Regions from separate parts of the Homo sapiens genome. Here all the other regions are linked to region 1. Evidence: fine-mapped expression QTL. A gene starts in region 1. Each other region holds a variant in brackets. All regions are shown on one strand. Distances are from middle to middle.

Region 1 (4,239 bases):
TTCCCTCAGAAACTCGTGTTGAAACTTAACTGTCAATGTAATGGCATTGGGATGTGAGGTCTTTAAGAGGTGATTAGGCCATGAGAGCTCAGTCCTCCGAGTGGATTAATGCTGTTATCTCCGGAGTGGGTTAGTTATTGTGAGAGTGGTTTCCTGAGAGGCTGAGTTCAGTCCCCTTTTTCTCTCTGTCTAGGAGGCTTGCCTGCTGTCTTGTCTTCTGCCATGGAATGACGCTTGTCAGATGCCACTACGATGCTCTTGGACTTCTCATCTTCAGAAAGCTAGGAAGGTGAACAAATTTGTTCTTTTTTATTATTATTATTTGAGACAGAGTTTCTCTCTGTCGCCCAGGCTGAAATGCAGTGGCGTGATCTTGGCTCACTGCAACTTTCGTCTCCTGGGTTCAAGCAATTCTCCCACCTCAGCCTCCTGAGTAGCTGGGACTACAGGCTCATACCACCATGCAGGGCTAATTTCTGTATTTTTGTTAGAGACAGGGTTTTGCTATGTTGGCCAGGCTGGTCTGAAACTCCTGACCTCAAGTGATCTACGTGCCTCGGCCTCCCAAAGTGCTAGGATTACAGGCATGAGCCACTGCACCTGCCAACTTTTGTTCTTTATAAATTAGCTAGCCTGTAGTATTCTGTTATAGTAGAAGAAAATGGACTAAGACACAATGTTGTGGCTACTGTCAGCTCTGCTCATTCTGGATCCCTCAAGTGTGTGGCTCATGTCACACATGGGACCAGGGTCCTGGTGTTTTATTGTTCCATCCAGGGCTCTATTCTATATATAATCTATCTATCTTTCTTTCTTTCTTTTTCTTTCTTTCTTTCATCTTTCTTTCTTTTTTTTTTAGATGGAGTCTCTCTCTGTTGCCAGGCTGGAGTGCAATGGTGTGATCTTGGCTCATTGCTTTGCAACCTCCACCTCCTGGGTTCAAGTGATTCTCCTGCCTTGGCCTCCCAAGTAGCTGGGATTACAGGCACGTGCCACCATGCCTGGCTATATAATACTTCATCAGATATGGTGGTACAGAAAAGATAAGAAGTTGTGCTCTTACAACAAAAGTTTGAAATATCAGATGATCCAGTAGAGTTCTAAAAGATAGTAAAGATTAGAGGCTGTGGGTATCAAAGATGGGTATCTCTGGGGAAAGAGAAGGAAAGAAATTATATTTTCAGATAGCTATGTCTTAGAGAAGAGTATCTTCTGATGTGCAAGTTGGATTAGAGAGAATGTATAGCTAGTGGAGGGACCAGATGAGAAGCTATTTCAATGGTCCAGGACTATTCTAAAGGTATTTAATATTAACTGGGCAGTTACTATGTTCCAGGCACTGTATCAAGCACTTTACTTACATTAACTCATTTATTTCCTGTGGCAACCCTTTGAGAAAGAATTGTCATGAGTACTCTATTTTACAGATGAGGAGACTGAGGAGGAGAGTGATTTGGCAACATGCCCAAGGTCAGATGATTAATAAATGATGGAGATGAGATTTGAGTTTGTGTGACTTCAGAATCTATGCTGTTGACCATGACCCATATACTGAACTAGGTTAACAGTGTATAACCAGGTGGAGCTTCCCTATAGGAAGTTAGAAAGTAGGATCTGGAGCCCAGGAGAGATATTGGGATATTGGGTTAGAGGAAGAGGTGTGAAGTCATCCGCATGGAGATAACGGTTGAGAAAGACATGGGGAGTGATCACCACAGCTCCTTAAGTAGAGGGTGTTTTATGATTCAAAAGTAGGCAGCCATAGAGAAGGGAAGCTCCTTAGATCGATGAAGTAATCCCAGATAGGAAGAAGAGTGAAAGAGGCAGGGAACAGAGTTTTCTCTGTTGGAGAGGTTTCGTAAACTGGGACTGACTTTCATGAAATTCCGAGTCATGAAATCTCAGGGGGTGACTCAAACATTACGTTCACATTAAATGAAGGCCAACAGATTTTCCTGTTTGTGCTTGGTCCATTCTCAGAAACGTCTCTTGCCACCCTTTCTCTTCTGCTAAGTAAGGCTTAAAATTAGGAAGCATTCTTTAAAAGGCAAAAGAGGAAATAGATGAGTGAGAACACAAAGGAAACTTGGACAAGTAGAAAGTGGATGACCCAGGCTCCGTTACATATACTTGGATTCCAGCTGGGACCTAGATTTGCTGAGGACGGAAGCCAAGGAGACAGGAACATGTGGCTGCTCCCAGCTCTACTCCTTCTCTGCCTCTCAGGTGAGTGGGGCTGTGGCTTTGGGGACTTGGTTTTGCAGGGGGCAGGACAGTAGGTAGAAGAGCTGTCCTGGGTTCAAACCAGAGGTGAAGTGTCCACAGAAAAGGGAAAGATACATCCGTTCATTCACCTGTGCATCCTTCTATACATTCAATCATTCATCCACGGATCCTACAAACACTTACTGAGCACCAGATATGTGCCAGGACTGTTCTGGGTGCTGTAATTAAGAGTAACTTCTGAACTGAGGGAGTCAACTAACTACAATACAATGTGGAAATTACTGTTGTAGAGACTCATTCATGTGGTGATGAGAGTATGCAACAGGAACCCCTCACTTTGCTCTTGGAAGGGTGGGAGATGTCACTGAGGCTTCATTGGAAGTCCATCCTGCAGGATGAATGAGTTGGCTGAGTGGGAAAGGAATAGCTTATGTGCAAGTGTGAGGACATTAAAGACCATGGAGAGTTCAAGAATTAACAATAGTTCTGTTTTGACGAAGCTTAGTGTAAAGGGGTTGGAATGGTTTGTGAGAAATAATTAATGGGCTGGGCGTGGTGGCTCACGCCTGTAATCCCATCACTTTGGGAGGCCAAGGTGGGTGGATCACCTGAGGTCAGGAGTTTGAGACCAGCCTGGCCAACATGGTGAAACCCTGTCTCTACTAAAAATACAAAAATTAGCTGGGCGTGGTGATGCATGCCTGTAGTCCCAGCTACTAGGGAGGCTGAGGCAGGAGGATCGCTTGAACTTGGGAGGCGGAGGTTGCAGTGAGCCGAGATTGCACCACTGCAGCAGTCTGGCCTGGGTGATAGAGTTGAGATCCTGTCTGAAAAAAAAAAATGCCATCCTCAACATCTACCTTAAATCCTTCCCGGAACAAGGTGTGGTGTAAACAAGTAAATGAAACTGTCCTGCAAAGGTTGGACTTCAGAAGAGAAACTCTTATTAATAGACATTCAAAATACAAAACTGCAGGAAAACACATTTGTCTCTGGGGAAATAAATTTAGGCTAAAAATTAGAGGACATTCTTCATGTTTGCAGAATGAATTTTATGGTTGAGTTCCCTCACAAAACATAGAAATTGCCCAATGTAATGACAAGATTCTTTCTAGAAGGGTGAGTGAAAATGACAGCGATTTAAAGGAAGAAGACCAGGTAGGTGACATGGACCCAAACTCGTGGGCTCAAGCAATCCTCCTCTCTTGACCTCCCAAAGCACTGGGATTACAGGCATGAGCCACTGCACTCAACCAATGTTTGCTCATTTTGTATTTGAATTTGCTTCCTTTTTCTTTGCCCTTTCCATCTCTCTTTCCACCCCTATCTCATTCCCCATCCTCAGACTCGCAATGTGACCTGCGCAGGTCCCTCTGAAAATCTTAACTGGGAAAGAGAGATGGAAAGGGCAATTCTAGCAGGGAGGGGAAATGACAAAGAGGAAGGAAGCAAATTCAAATACAAAATAAGCAAACGTTGGTTGAGTGAGGTGGCTCACACCTGTAATCCCAGTGCTTTGGGAGGTCAAAGCAGGAGGAATGCTTCAGCCCAGGAGTTTGAGATCAGCCTGGGCAACATAGCAAGACCCCATTTCTACAAAAAAAGAAAAGTAAAAAATTTAAAAAGAGCAAAACTAGAATTCTATTTATTACACATTTTTATAACCTATAAACACTTCCAAATAGATGATAGAATTTAACCCTCTGAGCAGTTTTGTGACCCAGGCAGGGCAAATAGCATTGACTCCACTTTATAAATAAGATGATGAAGGGAGATCTGATGACATAAGAACTAAGTAGACAAGCTGGAAATGAAGTCCAGATCTGTGTCCTCCACAGAGCTCTTTCCATTGGCCATGGAGGTGTCAAGAATAAGGCTAACCTAGTAATAGTGACAAAATAGCTGACCTCTCTGCCACATCATCTGGTATTTCCATTCTGAACTGATTGCTGTCCAATATTTAGTAGCTCCCATTAACCTCAAGCAACCAGCAAGCACATGTTTCAACAAATG
Region 2 (4,239 bases), 27 kb after region 1:
GGTCTATTACTGTGCCTGGTCCATGGCCCTGGGGCTTCCCGACTCCCTGCTGTGTTCCCTCCTTAACCCCCTGTCAGTTTAGCCTTCCTAAGACAAAGCCCATCATATCTTCACCTGCAAAGGGCTTTGCAGGGGTGGGGGATTAGAGGCAGAGCAGCAGAAAGCTTTGCCAGTGGGAGCAGAGGAGGGCGTGGTGGGTCAGTTCTTGGGGAGGAAGTGGAGGAGGCCCCTGAGCAATATCTGTTTATGTTTGTTTATTTATTTATTTTTGAGACAGAGTCTTGCTCTATCACCCAGGCTGGAGTGCAGTGGTGTGATCTTGGCTCACTGTAACTTCCGCCTCCTGGGTTCAAGCAATTCTCCTGCCTCAGCCTCCCGAGTAGCTGGGACTACAGGCATGTGCCACCACACCAGACTAATTTTTGTATGTTTAGTAGAGACGGGGTTTTGCCATGTTGGCCAGGCTGGTCTTGAACTCCTGGACTCAAGTGATCTGCCTGCCTTGGCCTCCCAAAGTGCTGGGATTACAGGTGTGATCCGGGCCTTCTGTTTATGTTTGAAGCTGCACCTTCTCTTGGGATTTTGGAGTGTCTTGGTGAGCCCTGGTGCTGCTGCCTAGAGCCAAGAACGCATGGGAGGGGGCAGGACTTCAGGGACCATAGACAGACTTTCTTTCTTCCTTCTTTCCTTCCTTCCTTCCTTCCTTCCTTCCTTCCTTCCTTCCTTCCTTCCTTCCTTCCCAGTTTTATTAAGGTATAATTGGGATAAAATAAACTGCACATATTTAAAGTGCACAATTTGAAACACTTTTCTTGTTGTTTTTATGATTTTTTCAAATGTATTATTTATGGGCATTCAGCTAGTTTCAAGTTCAGGGCCATGATGCATAGTGTGCTGTGAACATTTTAGACCATGCCTTTGGCGGGCTTCTGGTACCCTCCTTAGCAGCTTTTGAAGGGATCCCCATTCCCTCTATCTGGAGAAAAAATTGTGCCGTAGATCAGGCTGATATGGTTTGGCTGTGTCCCCACCCAAATCTCATTTGAATTGTAGCTCCCATAATCCCCACCAGGAGGGACCCAGTGGGAGGTAATTGAATAATGGGTGCGGGGTTTTCCATACTGTTCTTGCAATAGTGAATAAGCCTCATGAGTTCTGATGGTTTTATAAAGGGGAGTTCCCCTGCACAAGCTCTCTTGCCTGCTGCCATTTAAGACGTGACTTTGCTCCTCATTTGCCTTCTGCCATGATTGTGAGGCCTCTCCAGCCATGTGGAACTGTGAGTCCATTAAACCTCTTTCATTTATAAATTACCCAGCCTCGGGTATGTCTCTTTTGGCAACATAAGAACGGACTAATACACAGGCCAAGACCTAAGTTTAAGAGAAGTGAAATTTCAGTGAAAACTCAATCCTTAGCCTCAACAAGTCAGGCTCCTGTAGGGAAAAGTAGGAACCTGAAGATGGGACATTTGACAATTCATTTGAGCCCTCGAGCCTCCCACTGCAGAGCGGCCTGATGCTTGTTAGAAGGTAACAGCTCCCCTGTTGAAGTTGATGCTGAGGTCTCCAATGAAGCAGATGCCTCACCAGACATTGCTGCCCCCTAAGGATCTACTTGAGGAATCTGCCCTCATTTCTCTTCCTGACCGATAACCAACGTTGAGTGTCAGCCTGGCCCACCTAGGGACACGCTGGGCTGCTAAGGGAAAAGGAGAACTAATATACGCTGGCATGAACCAGTTAGAAGAGTGTGTGTGAGAGTGGATCCCAGGGCAGTGGACTATAGTGCTGAGCCAGGAAGGGTTTTTCAACATAGAGGTACTCATCCATGCAATGTAGGAGGACTCACCACTTGCAAAGCTGGGAGACTGGTCCTAGTACACTGCTGGGATGGCCCTGAGAAGCTTAGAAGCAACAAAACCCCACATTCAATGATGTAAAGATGTCATGGAAGGGTGGAAGAAGGGATCAAAAGGCTCAAGGAAACACAGAGCATCTTCAAGGCAGTGAACCTACTCTATAGGATGCTCTCATCATCCATTTGTCCAAACCCATAGAATATGCAACACTAAGATTGAACCCTAATGCAAACATGGACTTCAAATGGTCATGGTGTGTCAATATAGATTCCCCAATTGTAACAGATGTCCCACTCTGGTGGGGGATGTTGATAATGGGGGAGGCTGTGCCTGTGTGAGGGTAGGAGGTACATGGGAAATCTCTGTACTTCCTGCTCAATTTTGCTGTGAGCCTAAAACTGCTATAAAAAAACAAGGTTGTTTTTAAAAAGACTCACATGAAATTATTTGATTGTGTTTT[T/C]AGGTAAAATATGCTAGTTTCACTAAATTAGTATTTAATGAGTGTTATCCTTGGGATGCCCTGGAGGATACTCCAATACCAGGGAAATAAGAACTATGTTGGTGATGGGGCATTAGCATTATGGAGAAGCTCAGCAGTGGCTGTCTCTGTAGGCCAGGCTCACGGGAGGAGATGCCATTACATAACTGAGCTCCATAGGAGCAATGGGGCTGAGAGAATTCCAGAAGGGAAGAGGGCAGGTGGAGTCACTGGGCAGTCTGAGACAAGCTGAGCACTTGGACCAGGCAGCGAGTCCTGAGTAGAACCAGAGGCAAAATCAAGATCCTAGAGATGAGAGAGGCATCCCAGTGGTTCTTGCCCTGATTTTTAGAAATGATAGAAGTGGATACACTTAGCAACCAGTGCATATGAATACTGACTCTCTGGTCTGTGTGGTAAAAGTGATCAGACTGGGGAAGGCCAAGGGGAAGCCGCTGAGGCTGTCCCTCTGCTGTGGCCAAGATAGTAAATCCCAAACAATATCACATTCTGCCAGGAACACAGAGATCAGTGCCACCCCCCAAGACAAAGAAAACAAGGCATGGTCCCACTAGATCTGCCTTTAATTTACCAAGGTCAATGGGCTAGGGAAAACTAAACCAAGAGCCTGGGCATGGTGGCTCACACCTGTAATCCCAGCACTTTGCAAGGCTGAGGCAGGAGGATCACTTGAGCCCAGGAGATTGAGGCTAGCCTAGGCAACAGAGCAAGATCCTTTCTTTACCGAAAAGTGTTTTAAAAAATTAGCCAGTGCAATGTTGCACAACTGTAGTGTCAGCTACTCGGCTGAGGCAAGAGGATCACTGAAGCTCAGGAGTTGGAGGCTGCAGTGAGCTAGCTATGATTGTGCCACTGCACTCCAGCTTGGGCAACAGAGTGAGACCCTGTCTCCAAAACAAAACAAAACAAAACAAAACAAAACAAAACAAAACAAAACAAAACAACAACAAACCCACCACCATATTAAAGGAATAGCCAAATTTCCAGCTTCTGTGCCAACAGTGACAGGTTTACTAGAATAGATGAGCATAACCTGGTGTGTTGTGTGTGACTGTTGATCTGGCAAAAGCATCCTTTCCGCCACCATCAGGAAGGAGGAACAGAGGCAGGCGCATTCGCTTGGCATGGACAACAGTATACTTTCACAGTCTTGTTCCAGGACTGTGTTAATTTTCTTCTCCTTGTAGTATTGTTCTAAGAAACCTGAATCGTCCAGCCATTGCCCAGAACATAAAGGTAGTCCCCTGTGTTTATGACATCATGCTAATTGCACCTGATAACAAGAAGAGGCTAGCAACTGGATGTGCTCCAGAGGCTGGGAGATAAACCCTACACTGGTTTAGGGGCCTGCCGTGTCAAAAGATTAGGGGTATGGTGGTCTGGGGCATATTGGGTGTACCCTCAGAGTAAAGGGCAGATAAAATAAATTGCATTTTGCAACTCCTACTTCTAATTGACCCACCTGATAAAACTCAGGGGAGGCTTTGAACTCAGAGCCAGCAGGTGTGATGAAGAGTGTGGGTCAGAAGTGGGAATGGAGACTGGGGACCCAATTGGAGCTTTGTTCATGGAGCAGTTCCACAAACATGTTTTTGTTTTGTTTTGTTTTGTTTTTGAGATGGAGTCTCACTCTGTCACCCCGGCTGAAGTGCAATGGTGTGATCTCGGCTCACTGCAACATCCGCCTCCCAGGTTCAAGTGATTCTCCTGCCTCAGCCTCCCAAGTAGCTGGAATTACAGGCGTGCGCTGCCATGCTGGGCTAATTTTTGTATTTTTTGGTAGAGACGGGGTTTCACTATGTTGGCCAGGCTGGTCTTGAACTCCTGACCTCAGGTGATCCACGCGCCTCGACCCCCCAAAGTGCTGGGATTATAGATG
Region 3 (4,239 bases), 46 kb after region 1:
GCCTGTCTGGGGTTCCAGGCTTACCCTCACATAGACATTGGAAGCCAGGATCTGGGCATAGAGCTGAGAAGACCTGAGACCTCTGACCCAGGAGGCAGCTCATTTCCTGTCACCGTGTTCCCACAGGTCCCCGCTCAAGAGCACCCACTTCCTGTTCCTGTTCCTCCTGGAGCTGCCTCTGCTCCTGAGCATGCTGGGGACCGTCCTCTGGGTAAACAGACCACAAAGAAGGTCTTGAAGGAGGAGGAGTCAGCCCGATGATGAGAGTCCCAATGCCCATTGACGTCCTGTCCAGGGCGAAAGGCCCTCCCACAGAAGAAAAAACATTTTCTTTTCTCTTCTTTTTTTCTTTCTAGAGATAGAGTCTTGCTCTGTCACCCAGGCTGGAATGCAATGGTGTAATCTCTGCTCACTGCAACTTTCCCCTCCCAGGCTCAAGCGATCCTCCTGCCTCAACCTCCAGAGTAGCTGGGGCTACAGGCACATGCCACCACCCCCAGCTAATTTTTAAATTTTTTTGTAGAGATGGGCTTCCACCACGTTGCCCAGGCTGGTCTCGAACTCTTGACCTCAAGAGATCCTCCCGCTTCGCCTCCCAAAGTGGTGGGATTACAGGTGTGAGCCACCGCACCTGGCAGAAAAACAACATTTCTATGGGGAATTGACTGTGGTTCTAGAGGCAGTGCTGGCCCCAGCTTCAGGGAACAGCCTCCTAGTCCCCTATCTCCTGCAGCCGTGCCACCTGGGGCTATTCCCTTCTCTGCACAGTCCCTGGGGCCTGACAGAGCCCTTCTTCCTTCTGAGGTCTCCAATGCAGTAGAAAACATGAGAAGAATGTGTTTCCCCCGAGAGGCACCTATGCCGTAGTGGACATTCGTGATCTCAGGTCTGTGAGCCACATGCAATGTTAACGGACCTGTCTTTGCATTCCGTGGGGTTCAAGTCTCCAGTCAATAATGGGTTTCAAAATCCTAAACCCATGAAAACAGAAAAACGGAACCAAACTCTGGTAATGGGCCAACTTAAGGGAAGATGAGTACAGAAGAGAGCAGAGGTTTCCGGGCTGCCGTGCCAGCTGCTCTCCTGCCACTTGTGGGGAAGGGAAGTCAGGAGATTCCTGGATGAGTACGATTGAAGATGATGGGAAAACACAGCCTCCTTTCGTCACTGTAAGACTTTTCTATTAGTGTTGATTGTTACATTTTCTTACCTCTTTTAAGAGTATTGCAGTTGGCTGCTACTCTCAATTTGGGGTATATGGGGAGATCACCCATACATTTTGGGGACTGTGACATAATCCATAAACTGGATGCCAGAGCTAGAACTGTGAGCTGGGGATGGCTGGGTCCTCAGTACCGCCTGCCTGGGTCCCCAGGGTGGTGCTCAGTCTTGGACTCTAATGACTGAGCCCCCTGCCCAGTGGGATCATCTGGTGGTTAAGACAGAGGCTAAATAACAGAAATTCCCTTCTGGGAACATGAACCAGGATCACCCAACTGCCCTCTGTCAGGTCAATCTCTGTACCCAGGTGAGACCCTTATTCACTCCCCACCATCATTCATTCCAAAATGCTGGGCGCAGTGGCTCACTCCTGTAATCCCAGAACTTTGGGAGGCCGAGGTGGGTAGATCACTTGAGGCCAGGACTTTGAGACCATCCTGGCCAACA[T/G]GGTGAAACCCCATCTCTACTAAAAGTACAAAACTTAGCTGGGTATGGTGGCGCACACCTATAATCCCAGCTACTTGGGAGGCTGAGACATGAGAATCTCTTGAGCCTGGGAGGTGGAGGTTGCAGTAAGTCCAGATTGCACCACTGCACTCCAGCCTGGGTGATTGAGGGAGACTCTGTCACAAAAAATACATAAATAAAAATAAAAAATAAGCGAAAACATTTACTAAGCATCCACTAAGTATCAGGCACTGTTCAAGTACAACTATCACCGAAATAAAGAAAAAGACCTGGGTAAGTGCCGTGAAGGCAGTCTACAGGCTCAAAGATAAAGGATCACTCAGCTAGAAAATGATGAAATCATGGTTATTATCCAGACTCCCCCACCCCCAGCCTCACCCTTCATGAGCTCTGCCGCCCCTCTCTGGGCTGACCCATGTCCTGTCTGCTGCCCAGGCTCTGACCAGCGCTGCTCCCAGCCCCCACCCAGTGTGGACACCCCACCAACTCATAACACTCTCTGAGCTCCCACGTTCTCATCTTGTTTTTAACAACATTATTGAATCTTTCTATTGACTCTCTGCAGCAAAAGATGAGGACTTCTGTATCTTCCTCTTTTCCCACCATCCTCTTCCCCGTACTAATATTGTCAGTATGGTGGTTTTTGTATTGATGATATTCATTGTTGGTTTTTTTGTTTGCTTGTTTTTTTTTTTTTTGAGACGGAGCCTCGTTCTGTCACCCAGGCGGGAGTGCAGTGGCGCGATCTTGGCTCACTGCAACCTCTGCATCCTGGCTTCAAGCAATTCTCCTGCTTCAGCTTCCCGAGTAGCTGGGAATACAGGCACATGCCACCACGCCCAGTTAATTTTTGTATTTTTAGCAGAGACGGGGTTTCAACATATTGATCAGGCTGGTCTCAAACTCCTGACCTCAGGTGATCCACCCGCCCCGCCTCTGGTAACTGTTTTTAAAAGTGCAATCTAGCCACAGTGAATAGGGACAAGAGTCAGACTGGGGAGCTCTTGTGCCTGTTCAAGAGGGAAGGCCCTGTGGTAATCAGGGAGAAAGAGGGGGGTGGGAGGGCAATGGAGAAAAGTGGACAGATCTGAGGGTCTTGGGTTAACACAATGGCTGGGGCACGAGCAAAAGATGAGCCAAGGATGTTGCCCAGGTGACTGGAGTTTGGTCTGAGAAAAAGGGGACCATGGGTGTAATTTACTGTGATGAGAAGAGGATCAGGCTGGGGAGTTTGCAGGAGGTCAAATCAAGAGTTTCCTTTTGGGGGCCGGGCGCGGTGGCTCACGCCTGTAATCCCAGCACTTTGGGAGGCCGAGGCGGGCGGGTCACGAGGTCAGGAGATCAAGACCATCCTGGCTAACACGGTGAAACCCCGTCTCTACTAAAAATACAAAAAATTAGCAGGACGTGGTGGCGGGCGCCTGTAGTCCCAGCTACTTGGGAGGCTGAGGCAGGAGAATGGCGTGAACCCGGGAGGCAGAGCTTGCAGTGAGCCAAGATGGCGCCACTGCACTCTAGCCTGACTCCGTCTCAAAAACCAACAAACAAACAAAAAAACAGAGATGTAATCCTTGCCCTTAGAGAATCACAGTTTGGCAGATACACGTGTTCTACCTCCACTCAAGGTGATTTTGCCCGCCAGGATGAAGGCACAAGCAGCAAGCTGCCTAGATTACTTCAAACTCCCTTCCCAGAGCACCAGGAGAGAAAGCATCTGCTTTATCCCAGCCTCAAGTTCCTGGTTTCTGGTGTCTCCTTCTAAGCAACAAGGTCTAAGTGGCAAGGTCTAAGCAGCTTGGCAAGACAATCGGGACATTTAGCCTCATGACTTCTCAGCTTCAGACTCCAATCACAGCCGCCGGGGAGCCATAGGTCACCAAAACCAGCAGCTCAACGTGACTGTGCTTTACTTGTCTTATTCTTCCCCTTCACGACCTCAATCTTTGTCTTTCCAATTCCTCCCCAGATCTACTAGCAAGAGGCAGTTAACCAGATCAACATCCTCATTCTTATGGTTGAAAGAATGCAAATCGATTCTCATTCTGCCATTTTCCTTTCTTATTTTGTCGAATATCTCAAAGTTTCTCTTTCCTGTCAAGACTAGCTAATTTGCACAATTGCGTCTAAATTTACTGATTTAATTCTTTCTATAAGCTAACTTCTCTGTTCTTGCTACCCATATAAGAGATTCTTTCTCTAGTCAATACTCAATAATCAATAACATTCATAGACATGTAGTGGGAATATATTTGAATAAACACTGTGGTATTGATGGATAAAGGGTCTAATGTAGCAGAAACTAATTACAAAAATGATAGCAAACAAATAAAGCAAAATCGAATATCCATGACAAATCCAAAAGCAATTTCCTTGGAAAGATGTTGACAAGTCTAATGAAATGAAAGATATATGATGTTGATCTCTGTAACTGAATTAACTTGGACATCTTCCCAACAAGATCACTATTTGAGTAGAATTTCTTTTCTTTTTCTTTTTCTTTTTCTTTTTTTTTTTTCTTTGAGACAGAGTCTCAATCTGTCGCCCAGGCTG

Alleles and levels. Positions count from the first base shown, and alleles are read on the strand shown. Sizes are in standard deviations (SD) of each study's normalised expression. Not every link is listed here.
As copies of T replace G in region 3, the expression in whole blood of the gene that starts at base 2,070 in region 1 goes down (moderate effect, 0.50 SD a copy in TwinsUK).

The links. PIP is the estimated chance that this variant, and not a neighbour inherited with it, causes the effect. A credible set is the group of variants that fine-mapping cannot tell apart.
Region 2: its variant is the best candidate, but not a certain one, in a credible set for the expression of CD300E in whole blood (INTERVAL, PIP 0.52).
Region 3: its variant is the best candidate, but not a certain one, in a credible set for the expression of CD300E in whole blood (TwinsUK, PIP 0.53).

Annotation. Positions count from the first base shown.
Region 1 is chr17:74,621,569-74,625,807 of GRCh38, reverse strand. It overlaps CD300E (CD300e molecule), which reads left to right and starts at 2,070. Exons shown (of 4, transcript NM_181449.3): 1 at 2,070-2,226. The coding sequence starts at 2,187. LOC101928343 (a long non-coding RNA gene) reads right to left here. Exons shown (of 4, transcript NR_158152.1): 4 at 1-281.
Region 2 is chr17:74,594,459-74,598,697 of GRCh38, reverse strand. No RefSeq gene overlaps it. Among named protein-coding and RNA genes, the nearest start is that of CD300LD, 4.3 kb to the right of the region's middle. The variant T/C (reference allele first, on the strand shown) is at 2,322.
Region 3 is chr17:74,576,001-74,580,239 of GRCh38, reverse strand. It overlaps CD300LD (CD300 molecule like family member d), which reads left to right. Exons shown (of 4, transcript NM_001115152.2): 4 at 127-875. The coding sequence ends at 238. Among named protein-coding and RNA genes, the nearest start is that of CD300LD-AS1, 6.6 kb to the left of the region's middle. The variant T/G (reference allele first, on the strand shown) is at 1,669.